Linked DNA regions of Homo sapiens. The protein of the gene in region 2 purifies or fractionates together with the protein of the main gene of each other region. This does not show direct contact. Each region holds a gene or a part of one and is shown on either strand. Other genes may lie near its edges.

Region 1 (3,887 bases), on a different chromosome or scaffold from region 2:
TTATGTCAGAATTTCTTATGATTGTGAAACTCTTACATTTTTTAAATAAATTGTCTTTGTTGTAAAACTTGAGTAAAGAAAAGCTTTAATGAATTTGCAAAAAAATATATATTCTTAAAGATAGATACACTTTTTTTAAATTCTTGTTTTAATTCTACCTCATAATTGCTTTGTCAGGTAAATCTCGATTTAAACACCAAGTTTTCTTACAGTTTTTTTTTCACCATCGGAATAACCTGGATATAAATGTTGTGATTAGACAAGTTTATCATCTCATGGAGACCACGCCTACTGACATTCATCCAGACAGCATGCTTAATGTTTTTGTTGCACTGACAAAAGGGCAGTATCCAGTATTTAATCAATATCCAAAGTTTATTGTGGACTATCAAACACAGGAACGAGAAAGAATAAGGAATGATGAATTGGATTACTTAAGAGAGAGGTAATTATGGAATAGTTTTTCTTTTTCTGATACAATGAAATATGTTATAAACATAAGAAAGTTTTAATGAAAAATACATTTGGCTGAGCGCGGTGGCTCACGCCTATAGTCCCAGCACTTTGGGAGGCCAAGGCAGGTAGATCACAAGGTCAGGAGTTCGAGACCAGCCTGGCCAACATGGTGAAACCCCGTCTCTACTAAAGATACAAAAAATTAGCCAGGCATGGTGGCACGCCCCTGTAGTCCCAGCTACTCAGGAAGCTGAGGCAGGAGAATCACTTGAACCCAGGAGGAGGAGGTTGCAGTGAGCGGAGATCATGCCATTGCACTCCAGCCTGGGCGACAGAGTGAGACTTCATCTCAAAAAAAAAAAAATGCATTTAAATTATGAGTATTTGTGTAAAATCAGAGTTTGAAGGCTAGAAATATTAAAGATAGTTAATTCTTGCATATGGAAATAAAATAGATTATACATTAATCGGTATACATTTTGTGTTTTGATGATTCTTAGCTTTCTTCTTTGTGTTTTCATAATAATATTACCTACTTAAGGCAGACAGTTGAAGATATGCAAGCTAAAGTCGACCAGCAAAGAGTTGAAGATGAAGCTTGGTACCAGAAACAGGAGCTGCTTCGTAAAGCTGAAGAAACAAGAAGAGAAATGCTCTTACAAGAGGAGGAGAAAATGATACAACAAAGACAGAGGTATGTGTTATCACTTTAAAAAAAAATCTGGACATATAAGTTAGTTGAATAATTTTTATGTTCTTTCATTTTTTCATTTTAGAAACAACATTATATATAGGATTACCCAGCTGTAGCATTTCTATAAAGCAACTATTAAGTTAATAAAAAGAATCTTTATATACCACTTTTCAAAAAAAATTGCTATGTAGTAAAATGTAATTCTGAAGCTATGCTGAATATAATATAGCTTTGCATGGATTAATGTTCCTTGAAGGACATTATTTAGAAACATTATTCTATAGTGGGCAGAAATGCTTTGTAATAGAATGCTAGGTACATCACCTTTAGTAGAGTATAATTTTTTTAATTGTGTTTTAAACATACCTGTGTGACCTGACAGTTGTAACATAGAATGATTATGTCATTACCCATTTAACACTTTGGAGGACAGGGGAATGAGTATTAAATGCGTATTCAAAAGTACGTTAGCTGGGTGTGGTGCCACATACCTATAGTCCCAGCTACTAGGTAGGATCACTTGAGCCCAGGAGGTCAAGGCCAGCCTGGGCAACATAGTGAGACCCTGTCTCTTAAAAAATAAAAAGAAAAAACTTAAAAATAAATACATAAAAGTATGTTAATAAGGTAAAATGTGTAAATTAAGTAAAGTAATGGGATAAACATTGAGACTAAGCCCAATAGTTGGGAAACTCACTTCTGTGTTTATTGATTCCTATTCTTAGATGGAACTTTATGTAACAGATTTATAGTGTGGGTTAAAAGGAATTACTGAACTGAGCCAGTGAGCTTTCTACTAAAATTCTTAAAGCATAAGTATACATCATCTTTGGTAACGGTGGAGCAGTTCTCGCATTCTTCTTTCAAATAAAGGATATCAATTGTATTGAAATGATCAGCATGGCAGACCTGTTATGAAAAAACTAAATCATATTAGGAATTGCTGTATTTGTTCCACTTGATGTATTTTGTATTTAAGGCTAGCTGCTGTGAAAAGAGAGCTGAAAGTAAAGGAAATGCACTTACAAGATGCTGCAAGAAGGCGTTTTCTGAAGCTTCAGCAAGATCAACAGGAAATGGAACTAAGAAGACTGGATGATGAAATTGGGAGAAAGGTTTATTATTCTTAACTTAGTTCTCATACATCATCTCCATTTACTCTCACTTAAATGTAATGAACACCTTCAAATTAAATAATATTCTTAGAGTCCACCATGAATACTAAATAGCCGCTTTAATTTTATTTACTTTTCCCCTCAGCTTTCTCATTCTCTTTTGTATTTCATGAATGGCTAAATATTTAAGAAATGCCAGGAAAATTAGTCAAGTGTCCTTGGTGACTATTTCTCTAAAACTAGAAATATCAGTATCAGTTAGCCATTAAGTTATTTTTTCTTTTCTTTTCTTTTTTTTTTTTTTTTGAGACAGAGTCTTGCTCTGTTGCCCAGGCTGGAGTGCAGTGGCGTGACCTCAGCTCAGTGCAACCTCCGCCTCCCGGGTTCAAGTGATTCTCCTGCCTCAGCCTCCCAAGTAGCTGGGATTACAGGTGCACGCCACCACACCCAGCTAATTTTTGTATTTTTCTTAGAGACGGGATTTCATCATGTTGGCTAGGCTGATCTCAAACTCGTGACCTCAGGTGATCTGCCCACCTTGGCCTCCCAAAGTGCTGGGGTTACAGGCGTGAGCCACCAAGCCCGGCAGTTAATTTTTAATTAGGGGACATATTCTTTTTTCATATAAAAATTATCTGTGGCCAGTATAAAAATAATTTCCAGTACAAAACATACAGAATTAAAAATTGACCTTCTCCATTAGTTCTCATGTCATCCCCAGAGAAACACTATTAAAAAATGGTTAATTGGCTGGGTGCGGTGGCTCATGCCCGTAATCCCAGCACTTTGGGAGGCCGAGGCAGGCAGATCACCTGAGGTCAGGAGTTCGGAACCAGCCTGGCCAACATGGTGAAACCCTGTCTCTACTAAAAATACAAGAATTAGCTGGGCATGGTGGCAGGCGCTTGTAATCCCAGCTACGCAGGAGGCTGAGGCAGGAGAATTGCTTGACCCTGGGAGGTGGATGCTGCAGTGAGCCGAGATCATGCCACTGCACTCCAGCCTGAGCGACAGAGTGAGACTCAGTCTCAAAAAAAAAAAAAAAAAAAAAAAGGTTAATTACATAGACTTTCAGGTATGTTCTATAGATAGAGGAGTAATTATAGTCATGTTTTCCTATATTTATACAAAAATGGGATTATTCTCATTATACATTGTTTTTGTAACCTGCTTTTTAAAATTTCATATGCTGAATATCTTTTCATATTTGTTATATGTGTATCTATTTCTCTTTTTGTGGTTGTATAATATTCCATTGAATTAATAGCTTATTTAATCCTTTGCTATTGGACATTTCGGTTATTTGCAGTGTTTTGCAAATTACAAAACCATGCTACATTGTAAAAGTCTTTGAGTACTTGCACACATACTTTTGTTGAGTAACTTCTAAATTATGACAAATTGTTCTCTAAAAATGAAACAGTTTCAGCTGTTTTAAGTCTGTAAGAGTACCCACTCCCTAGTATAGTCAATTGTACTGCATCAGTCTTAATATTTGCCAAGCAGATAGATGACAAATCGTCTATTTTAATTTGCCTTTTTTTATTGTTAGTGAGGTTAAGTATCTTTTCTGTTACTTATCTTCCATGTGTAGAATTACACATTACATATTTGTATCATTT
Region 2 (3,887 bases):
TGAAGAGACCGAAAGTTCAGGAAAGTTTATTAAATTAAGGTGATCACCGGCTCAGCTAGTCTGAGCCCCAAACAAAGGGCTTTTCCTACTTTTAAATATCTTAAGGTGGGAACTACGTGAGGCGGGAATCGAGTTACAGAAGCAAGAAACAAAGGCAGTATTACAACGTTTGTTACATTTTGAGAAAGACATGTCTTGCAGCCTAAACTTATCAGTCTTGTGACCCTGCAGTCATGCAGGAACTCACTGGGCCTGTAATAAACTTTGAGGAATGTGGAGTTGGGGAGTATAGATAAGGTCCACTGTCCACAGAGAGAAGACAGGCTGTTAATATTCCCTTTTAACGTGAATGTAAGGCAGGGGTCACATTTTGCAGGAACTTTAAAAGGATTTTAAAATTTGTATTACTACTACTCTTAGGTTATAGTTGATTTCATTAATTCCTTCTTCATTTCCCCCTTTTGGTGCTCGACACAAATGTAGATTAATAAAGAGCACCACAGTTAGCTATTTCTTCTTGAGTGGGTACATACTCATCTTGGGATACCAGTTGGTACTTTTGCAGAGCCTTTATTCGGATGGTGGTATGTCTGTCTACCATTGAGTCTATGGTGGATTGGATGCTTCCGATTAGAAATGGCAAGAGACAGGGAAGCAGTAGGCATCCACCTTTTATGGCCACAAAGCCTAGTATTACAGTTTTAAAGCCTCCAAACCATGAAAACCGTCCTCCAAAGAGTGAACTCGGGTTCCAACCAGACCATGTCTGAACCAGAACATGAGCTAACTTCCGCATCCTGGCAGTGATTTCCATGACAGCTTTTCCATTGTCATCAATTTGTAAGCAGCAATTTGTTAAATTAAGTTTTCCACAAACCCCCTTCTGAAGCTAAAACATAATTCAGTACTAACCTGTTCTGATAAATGGCATCTCTCATCTGGGTTGCCTGTATGGCTAGCAAGTCTAAGGCTCAGGCTGTTTCATTGACTATAATTTCCAGAACTGCTTGCAACCTTATGATGTGGTTTAACATATAAATAGGAGTACAGTATCCCCATGACCCATCTTGTGCCCAGGGGGCCATTCATTATCTTTCCAGCCCCCTATTTCAATGTCCTTTTTAATGTTAGTATTTATTTTTTCCTCAGTACTTATTTTTGTAAACACATTTCTTTTGACTCTTTTTCTGCCTTCATCATAGACCAGATAGCTTAGATCTTCCCCTTGCTGCAGGGGGAGTAGCAAAAAGAATGGCCTTATTGTTCCTAATATACATGCCCCTGTCCATTTATCGGTTAGTAATTGATAAGCCTTTGTTCCACAGATCCTATATAATCCTGCAGGTGCTCTCCAAACAGTTGGAGCTTCTAATTGGTACCATGATTGATTTAGTGTTGGGAACTGCAAAAAGGGATTAAAGTGACACAGAGGAATCATCTATAAAGCTTCTCCATTGTGTTCTGTTCTCAGATTCTTCAAAATATTGTTGACCTAGGCAAGTTGTTTCCCCTATCTGGTTCTGAAAGGACTTGCCCCAACAGGCAATACAGTATTTTCCAATGATGGGGTTCCTTAATAGCCAAACACTTGGATTTGCATTGAATTTTGTAACAAATTCAGGCAAGGTAAAATTGTCTTGCAGCATCAATTCTCTGGCTTCCCAGGGCCATTGATCTCTCATATTAGCACCTCCACATACATAACAGGAAGTAACTCCTAAATTGTTAGCAATACTTTTGGCTAGCTGGACAAACAGATTTTCAGTTGATATAGGAGGAATTTGAATTTTTGATACTTCAGAATTAAAGTGTTCATTGAAAGATTTATAAAACCTGAACTGTTGTATTGGGCTAAGTTGAACTTGAGTCCTTTGGGTTTTCTTTGTGATGACCAGAGGAATACCAAGTCCTAGGAGAGCTCCTGCCTGATCAAAGGTTAGTAATCCTTTATGCCCTTTAGTCCAGAAAGTCATATTTGGCTTTAGTATTGTCAGATTGAGTGGGTAGCATGTTCCAGTTGTGTACCCTATCTTCTCCTCTTGGCTGGCAAACAGAGCAGCCCTTCCAGTGTATAGGTGCTGATTAAATTCATGTGTGGTCCACTGATTATCACAATCAGGGCACTCTTTTTCGGACTCTCCTATTATGGCCTTGGTGGCTCTGCTGCTGACTCTTTCTTGTCCTAGATTTTTACAGATGGTCCAAATATTATTTAGTTTACTGAGATGTGCAGCTTGGCAGGCATCAAAATATATGGAGACGGGCCCTTTATGCGCGTAAGTGAATACTTGCGTTTTGTTTACAAGTTTACTGACCCCAGTTTCTGTGGGGTTTGTATATGATGGCATTAGGGGTTCACCAAATTTGGACTTCAAATAAGAAGTCATAGGGCAAGAACTCTGGGTCATAACATATTTGGGGCTGCCCGTTTCCAGGATCACAGACTGAGTAATTAGTCTGGTTATAAACAACAAGTTCCTGTATGAGTCCCTGTACACTCATAGTAGGTCTGGTATAACAGAGTTTTAGTCACACCTTTTCCAGACCAGGCTTCTATCATACAGTGATGACAGTCATCCTGGTCCCCTTTTATAACCATAGGTGAAAGTGTCAGTGGCTTCAGTATTACTAATATGATTAAACTTATACTATGCATGGGCACCTTTCTGGGCAACAAGCTTGGCAGCATTTGCAAAGATAACATGACAGCAAAATAATTACTACAAGTAAGAGTATAACTATGTTTGTAAATTTAGTCTACATTTACTTATGTATCATTGACTTCCTCAGGCTTCAGCCATGCATAGACTAGTCAGCTTCCATTTGTGTGACTAGAACAGGGCTCGATGTTTCCTCAAGCTTCAGCCGTGCGTGGACCAACCAGCCTCTGGTGTGGTTGAAGCAGGGCAGTTGTCCTTGTCAGCAGTGGCTTGGTTTCACCACAGGATCAGCCATGTTGAGTGGTCTGGGTTTTGTTGACTTGTCCACTGGTCCTGGGTGGTGGCTGCTTCTGGTTTCAGCCGGCTATGATGAACCCAAGGTATGATACCTGCAACTTTAACAGCAGTGGGAGTAGACAAGATCACAATATGGGGACTATCCCATAAAGGCCCTAAAGTGGTTGGGTTCCATTGTTTGACCCAGACAGAGTCTCCAGGTTAGAAGGGTTGTACTGCATCTGTGAGGCTAACAGGTATTCTTTCTCTTACCCATCCTTGCATTTCCTGCGAGACCTCACCTAAGGCTTGCATTTGCCTTCTTAAGGTTAATTCCCCAATTTTTTAAATCCCCGTTTATCTGAGTTATGATCAGGGTGTCGGCCAAACACTATCTTATAGGGTGAATACCCAGTTAATTTAGTAGGGGTGCACCTGACTCAGAGAAGGACCATGGGCAGCACCTGATCCCATCTTAGATGAGTTTCATGGCAAAACTTTTTTAACGGCTGTTTGAGTGTCCGGTTTATTCTTTCAACTTTCCAGAACTCTATGGGTGATAAGCTGTATGCAGTTTTCATTTGATTTTTAACCTCTGTGTTAGCTGTTGTACTATTTCTGCCACAAATGCTGGGCCATTGTCTGATCCTAAAGTTAGAGGCAGTCGAAATCTAGGAATAATGTCCTTTAGTAAGATTCTGGTTACTTCCCGAGCTTTCTTTGTCCTGGTGGGAAATGCCTCAACCCACCCTGAGAAAGTGCAGACAAACACTAGCATGCACCGGTAGCCTCCGGTTCGAGGCAGCTCAGTAAAGCCCACATGCAGGTTTTCACAGGGTGTAGCTCCAGTTTCTTGAATCCCTGGGGGCCATGTTGGCCCCTGCTGTGGATTGTTTGGGGCACAAGTTAAACATTACTCATAAATGGCTCGAGTGATGGCAGTTAGGCTCA
Region 3 (3,401 bases), on a different chromosome or scaffold from region 2:
GTTGTTTGGACACCAGGTCACCGCCACACAGCTGAGGGGGCCGGCGCCTGCGAGCCACACTCGGCTCACAGTGTGGGAGCTTTTCCCCTGTTCGGTTGGGCAGATGGTGGCTCACAGCAATCTGAATTAGTCTCTGGTGTTTAAGTCAGATGATTTCAGCAACAAACTCAGTTTTCCAATTTCCCTGGAAAAGTCGGATCTGTGACCTTGGCCGGTCCCCCAACAGCGTCTTTCCGTGGGGGACACCGGGTGGAGCTGAGTGCAGCTGCCCCTTGGACAAGGTCCCCCCACCCCCGGTCCTCACAATAAGTCAGCTGTCCTGGGCTGGGGGACTCATGCTGTTTTCCCCACAGAACAATCAAGAGGTGACAGAAACAGCTTTTATTCTCTCGCTCGTGTGCTAAGGAGGGAGACATGGGTCAAACCAGAGAGGCTCACGTTCTCCAAGTCTGCCCACCCCGGGGCCACAGAGCCCTCCCGCTTGCTGGGATACGACAGACAGGCTTGGTTCATGCAAATGCTCGTTACCAGGGCCAGACCCAATCTCAGCATCTGGAATAAACAGCTGCTGTTATGTAGCAACAGCCGACCCCTGGGCTGCTGGGCTGTGGTGCCAGCGTGAGTGCCCACCGGGCTGGGAGGCCGCCACCGCAGGGCTGGGTCCTGGGTCCCCATCAGGGCCACCCCAGTTCCTGGTCAAGTGCAGCCTCGGTCTTGTGTGTGCCTGGTGCCTGGGGCTGGGGTTGACCCTCTCACACCCAACCTGGGGGCCACACTTGTTCCCCCACAGCCTCCCAGGCTGGCCCCTGGCTTTACGTGCAGAGAAGCTGAGCCCCAGGTGGGGTGGGGGTGTCATCCACAGTCAGCGAGCATCCAGACCCAGGGCTGCAGGGAACCCTGGACGGAGACAGGCGTGCGGCGTAGGGGTGGCCAGCAGCTGTGAGGACCAGCTTGGACCTAACAGCTCACGTAGGGGTGGCCGGCAGGCCCTGACCACACCTCGGTCTCCTGCAGCTGGTGGTCCTGGCCGTGGAGCATACGGCCTTGGCCCTAATGGAGATCAAGGTCTGCGACGGCCAAGAGCACGTGGTCACCGTCTCGCTGAGGGACGGTGAGGCCACCCTGGAGGTGGACGGCACCAGGGGCCAGAGCGAGGTGAGCGCCGCGCAGCTGCAGGAGAGGCTGGCCGTGCTCGAGAGGCACCTGCGGAGCCCCGTGCTCACCTTTGCTGGCGGCCTGCCAGGTAGGTGCTCCCTGCTCCGCTCAACCCGGGTGAAGAGCTCCAGGGAGGCCCAGCTTGGTCACCCCAGATCTAACCTGGACAGGCTGGGGTTTCTGGTAGTGAATGCGGAAGAGGACTTGTGTTTTAAGAGGAAGGAGAAGTCCAGGTGGGTCGTTAGTGGCTATTATGGTGTCTCGGTGCTGGTCAGGTCATTGGCTGAGACTGAGAAACACGTACGGGGGCCGGCATTGGCCTGAGTCAGGCCCCACGAACCTGCATCTTCAGGGAGCATTCGTCCACACCCATCAGACCAGCCCCGGGGGAGAGGGCTGGGCAGACCTCGGGCCAGGCTGCAGTTGGGACCCGCGGCTGTCACCGCAGCTGTTAGCAGCGAACAGAGTGACCGCCAGCCCCTCCCATGTCCAGCAGGGCGTCCTGCCGTGTCCCATGGGCTACACAGCACAGAGGCTGGGACCGGGGATGTCCTTGCCATGAGCTGGGAGGGTCAGCGGAAAGGCACGTGGGAGCCGGCAAGTCCTCGGCTGCCCGCAGGTTTTCACTTGCGGCAAACGGCAGGATTTCTCTCTTGGCTGCCAGACACAGACTCCACTTAGTTTTAATAAACAGAGCTTTGAAGAGGATGAGAGCGAGCCAGGAGGCCTGCAGCCTGAATGACTCACTGGGCACAGAAGAAGATCACGTTTAACCGATGGGACTGTCTGTGCTCCCAGCGGGGAAGGGAGGGCTGGCGTCTGCAGAGCCCAGGCTGGCAGATGCCTCCTGCTTGTCTGCCGGGTCTGCGGCCAAACGAACGGGGACCGAGAAGTTAGAGAAGAAAGGGAAACCCTGCCCTTTCGGAGGGAACCCGGGGCTGGCCACAAGCGCTGCCGGGGGTGGGGGGGCCAGGCGGGGCCGGCCACGTGGTGAGCTAAGATATGTTGTTCTCTCCCTGCGGCCCAGATGTGCCGGTGACTTCAGCGCCAGTCACCGCGTTCTACCGCGGCTGCATGACACTGGAGGTCAACCGGAGGCTGCTGGACCTGGACGAGGCGGCGTACAAGCACAGCGACATCACGGCCCACTCCTGCCCCCCCGTGGAGCCCGCCGCAGCCTAGGCCCCCACGGGACGCGGCAGGCTTCTCAGTCTCTGTCCGAGACAGCCGGGAGGAGCCTGGGGGCTCCTCACCACGTGGGGCCATGCTGAGAGCTGGGCTTTCCTCTGTGACCATCCCGGCCTGTAACATATCTGTAAATAGTGAGATGGACTTGGGGCCTCTGACGCCGCGCACTCAGCCGTGGGCCCGGGCGCGGGGAGGCCGGCGCAGCGCAGAGCGGGCTCGAAGAAAATAATTCTCTATTATTTTTATTACCAAGCGCTTCTTTCTGACTCTAAAATATGGAAAATAAAATATTTACAGAAAGCTTTGTAACACCGCGTGGCCGTCATCTGCTCCCCGCGGGGTTCTGCACACGTAGCAGCGTTTGGGATGAGCGGGGCTGCCAGGGCTCCAGGCCGCACCCTCAGCCGCTCCAAAGATCCCTCCCTCTTTTCTGCTCCCAGCCTGGTTGGGCAGCCACGGTCTGCTCCCCAGGAGCCTCTGACTCCTCTGGTAGTGGCGGCAGGGGCTGGAGCCTCAGTTTACTTGTTCTGTAAATGCGGAGAACGCCCTGCTCGGCCCCCACCACAGGCAGCCAGTCATTGCTGAGTGAGGAGGGCTTGGCACACAAATGCAGGCTGCTGGGGCAGCGGCCTCTGAGCCAACCTGGGAGGGACCCCGAGCTGGGACCGAGGGCCGGAAGACACCGAGGCAGCGCCTGCACCCCTGTGCCATTCCCGTCCCCACCCTCCTGCACAGATCCACTTGCTTCCGGGCCTCAAGTGTGTTCTGTTGAGAAAGGGAAACTGCTTTCTCTGTGTCGGTCTGGGGTAGAGCTTGCCAGGAGCAAAGCCAGCCCTGCTTCCCGCGTCCCCACTGGCAGGGTCCCCATGTCCCTCAGCCTCAGCTTCCTTGTCTGCAAGGGGTGGAGCGGTCACTGGTGCTCTCTGACCCCAGCAGGCCACAAGTCTGCAGGGAAGGTCAGGGCAGCCGGAACGCGGCCAGGCAGGTGCCTGAAATGCAGTCGGGACCCTGCCTGCCTCCTGGAAGGATGTCGGAGCCGCAGCTGGTGGGGGCCACGG
Region 4 (3,887 bases), on a different chromosome or scaffold from region 2:
CAGGGACTTAATTTCCCTTTTTTTTTTTTTTTAAGATACAGGGTCTCGCTATGTTGCTCAGGCTGGCCTCCAACTCCTGGGCTCAAGTGATCCTCTCACCTCAGCCTTCCAAGTAGCTGAGACTACAGGTAAGTGCCACTGCACACAGCTTAATTTTCATATAACTTCAAAATAGAGAAACTTTGCTTAAATTAATATACTTGTCTGAAAGTTAGAATCCATCAGGAGTTTTAATAATTATGCTGAACAGTTAATGAATGCAGGATGAAACAAAACTAGCATAGCCAAAAGTTCCCATCCAAAATGATTTTCTTTAGGAAAAGTTAGCCAAATCTTAAAAACAAGCAAAACAAAACAAAACAAAAAACCTGTGAAGTTTAAAACTGTTTAAGGCCAGGCATGGTGGCTCATGCCTATAATCCCAGCACTTTGGGAGGCCAAGGTGGGCAGATCACTTGAGCCCAGGAGTTCAAGACCAGTGTGGGTAACATAGAAAAATCCCGTCTCTACAAAAAAAAAAAAATATATATTAGCCGGGTGTGGTGGTGTGTGCCTCTAGTCTCAGCTACTCAGGAGGCTGAAGTGGGAGGATGACTTGAGCCCAGGAGGTGGAGGTTGCAGTGAGCCGAGATCGTGCCACTGCACTCCCGCCTGGGTGACAGAGCAAGACTCTCAAAAAAGAAAAAAGAAAACAAACAAAAAAAAATTTTAAATATTCAGAAACTAAAAAATGAACTAGCAAATAAATCAAATAAATCAGAATCCTTCCAGAGCTAAAAAAACATTCCTTCCAGAATTCGAATTCCTTTAATTCACTTTGGTTTATGTATAACAAAATCAAAGGCTCCAGAAATCTTCAAATAATACAGCAAAGCACCGCAACAGTATGCTCCATCTTTAGACATATCCAGACCAAAATGTGCACACGCAAAATGCCAAATACACACGCTTACCCTTTCAAGTAGGTCTTAGTTCTACCCCCAAACTCAAAAATTATTAAAGATTATACAAGTAATTCCTTTCGCTTACCTGTCAGCCATATTTCTCCACTTAAAAAGCAAATTACTTGCAGAATCACCGATGGGCAGGTGCAATCTCTCCTTAAAATATTTCACAATGCTTTGTTCCTCTAAAAGCACAGGAACTCGGTATGTGGAAGAAACATCATGGATACATATGACCTAAGTGGCGATGAGAAATCACCATACTTAGATGGATCTATTCAAATATGCCACCACAAGAATGAAACAAAATTCAGCAGAGACTGGCAGTTTATTTACACTGATATAACACACACACACGCACACACAAAAACCCAGCAACCAAAGCTAGCATCAGAATTTGCACAAGGTTAGCTTCATTTAATTAGAAAACTAATCCCAGCACTATGGGAGGCCGAGGCGGGCAGATCACCTGATGTCAGGAGTTCGAGACCAGCCTGACCAACATGGTGAAACCCCACCTGTATTAAAAATGCAAAAATTAGCTGGGCATGGTGACATGTGCCTATAATCCCAGCAACTCAAGAGGCTGACGCAGGAGAATCGCTGGAACCCAGGAGGCGGAGGTTGCAGTGAGTCGAGATCGCACCATTGCATACCAGCCTGGGTGACAGAGCAAGACTGTATCTCAAAAAAAAAAAAGAAGTGTACACAAAACGATTGGACAGGTCAGGTGTGGTGGCTCACGCCTGTAATTCCAGCACTTTTGGAGGCTGAGGCAGGCGGATCATCTGAGGTCAGGAGTTCAAGACCAGCCTGGCCAACATGGTGAAACCCCATCTCTACTAAAAATACAAAAATTAGCCAGGCATGGTGACACACACCTATAATCCCAGCTACTCAGGAGGCTGAGGCAGGAGAATCGCTTGAACCCAGGAGGCAGAGGTTGCACTGAGCCAAGAGTGCACCACTGCATTCCAGCCTGGGTGACAATAGTGAAACTCTGTCTCAAAAAAAAAAAAAGATTGGACGCAAACAAAATGGCATGACAACATATCAACATACAGATGCAGAAGTGTCCCTTCAATCTGCCATCACATTTTTCAAAGTAGTTCAGACTTCGGCAATGACTCTGAGGCATCAGGCAGGGGGCTCTCCATCAGACTATTTTCCAAGATGCCAAAATTCAATTTGATCATTTTTAGACTTCAGAGAACCCAGAGTTATAATCTGAAGAAAAGATTTCTGCCAAACCTCACCCTTTTCCTGAGCACCATTTATATCACTCTCTTTAAACTATAGGTAACTCCAATCCCTTATAACCAAGCCTTATTGGAATCAAGAGACAGAGATGAGAGAAGGAAAGAAAAAAGAAAAGCGAATTATCAGAATACCAAGGTGGAAAGCCCTACAGAGCAGAGAACCTAAGCCCAAATCACAGTACAGTTTCTGTACCAATGAAGTCAACTGAGCCCACTGATGGAGTCAGAAGAGCTAGTGCGAATGTCAACGTGCTCGTGTGTTTGGGGTGACTTAAGCTGCCACAGGTAGAGAGGAGAAATGAGTGAAAGCAGTAAGTGTTCCAGAAGGAAACACAAGATAAAGAGATGATAAGTAGGCTTCATGTGGTTCTCTCTCTAGAGGTTTGACTGTGAGTTAAACACCCACCCTGGTACTGGGCACGATGGCTCACGCCTGTAATCCCAGCACTATGGGAGGCTGAGGCGGGCGGATCATCTGAGGTCAGGAGTTCGAGACCAGCCTGGCCAACATGGCAAAACCCCATCTCTACTAAAAATACAAAAAAATTAGCCAGGCGTGGTGGCGCATGCCTATAATCTCAGCTGCTCAGGAGGCTAAAATAAGAGAATTGCTTGAACCCAGGAGGCAGAGGTTGCGGTGAGCTGAGATCATGCCACTGCACTCCAGCCTGGGTGACAGAGTGACACTCTGTCTCAAGAAAAGAAAGCCCACCCTGGTTTTGTGACATAAGTTGAGTGATCATGCAAAGAAACATGCATCCTATCTCACTTAAGGGCTAGGGAATCATGGTTGGATCAGGGTTCCCCAGTGCTTGCATAAATGCCGTGAAAAGTAATATGATCATTGAAGAGGTACAAAACACTGGCATCAGCAGAAGTGCCTGCCAGACAATAAAATCTAAAGAGCAGCACCAACCTGTTCAGGGTTCACGTGACAAAACATAGAAATCTTCTCCTTCACGGCCATCTCAATGGGCGTTGAACTTCGGCAGACAATCTGTCAAAGCCAGTTATGCTTCAGCAAACAGGATTCACTTTCAGCAGGATGCCACATTCATTTCTTTTTACAAGAAACTTGGCCAAGTATGTACTTGTTCACTTTGGACATTCCACTGGACTATTAGAAATTGGTCTGAGCACTAATATAAGTATAATCAAATTCAGCATAAGTGTATCAGTAAGAACTCGAAACATCGAGACGTCTCTGGTGAACAGAGTCCAGGCTCACAAGTGTTGCTTCATTAACTACAAGAAAAGAGCTAGATCGGGGTTAACAAACTTTTTCTCAAAAGGGCCAGATGGGAAATATTTTAGGTTTGCAGGTGACACAGTCACTGTCCTGATCCTCAATTGAGGTGCAGTGTGAAAGCAGCTACAGACAATATGTAAATGAATGGGTGTGACTGCATGCCAATAAAACTTTACTTACAAAAACAGGCAAGCAAGTTGTGGGCTGTTATTTGTCAACCTCTGACAGAGACTACTGGTGATGACTGGATCACCTGCTATAAGGACACATCACTGTTTAGACTAAAAATAAGAGCAGCGGACTGGGCGTGGTGCAATCCCAGCACTTTAGGAGGCCAAGGCAGGAGGATTGGTTGAACCCAGGAGTTCGAGACCAGCCTCAGTAACATAGCAAAACCCTGTCTCTACAAACACACACACACACACACACACACAC

The links. The genes of interacting proteins can lie anywhere in the genome.
Region 1: the proteins of IL22RA2 (region 2) and TBC1D31 purify together in Homo sapiens (affinity purification with mass spectrometry; one large-scale study listed by BioGRID and IntAct). This does not show direct contact.
Region 3: the proteins of IL22RA2 (region 2) and GAS6 purify together in Homo sapiens (affinity purification with mass spectrometry; one large-scale study listed by BioGRID and IntAct). This does not show direct contact.
Region 4: the proteins of IL22RA2 (region 2) and CTPS2 purify together in Homo sapiens (affinity purification with mass spectrometry; one large-scale study listed by BioGRID and IntAct). This does not show direct contact.

Annotation. Positions count from the first base shown.
Region 1 is NC_000008.11:123,128,069-123,131,955, forward strand, and holds part of TBC1D31 (TBC1 domain family member 31), read left to right. Parts: intron 1-177; coding exon of another isoform or gene 178-212; coding exon 213-445; intron 446-997; coding exon 998-1,150; intron 1,151-2,129; coding exon 2,130-2,265; intron 2,266-3,887. UniProt on the Homo sapiens protein: Molecular adapter which is involved in cilium biogenesis. Part of a functional complex including OFD1 a centriolar protein involved in cilium assembly.
Region 2 is NC_000006.12:137,166,818-137,170,704, reverse strand, and holds part of IL22RA2 (interleukin-22 receptor subunit alpha-2 isoform 1 precursor), read left to right. Parts: intron 1-3,887. UniProt on the Homo sapiens protein: Isoform 2 is a receptor for IL22. Binds to IL22, prevents interaction with the functional IL-22R complex and blocks the activity of IL22 (in vitro). May play an important role as an IL22 antagonist in the regulation of inflammatory responses.
Region 3 is NC_000013.11:113,819,800-113,823,200, reverse strand, and holds the end of GAS6 (growth arrest-specific protein 6 precursor), read left to right. Parts: intron 1-1,014; coding exon 1,015-1,243; intron 1,244-2,182; coding exon 2,183-2,337; 3' UTR 2,338-2,652; downstream 2,653-3,401. UniProt on the Homo sapiens protein: Ligand for tyrosine-protein kinase receptors AXL, TYRO3 and MER whose signaling is implicated in cell growth and survival, cell adhesion and cell migration.
Region 4 is NC_000023.11:16,688,421-16,692,307, forward strand, and holds part of CTPS2 (CTP synthase 2), read right to left. Parts: intron 3,201-3,887; coding exon 3,120-3,200; intron 1,182-3,119; coding exon 1,030-1,181; intron 1-1,029. UniProt on the Homo sapiens protein: Catalyzes the ATP-dependent amination of UTP to CTP with either L-glutamine or ammonia as the source of nitrogen. Constitutes the rate-limiting enzyme in the synthesis of cytosine nucleotides.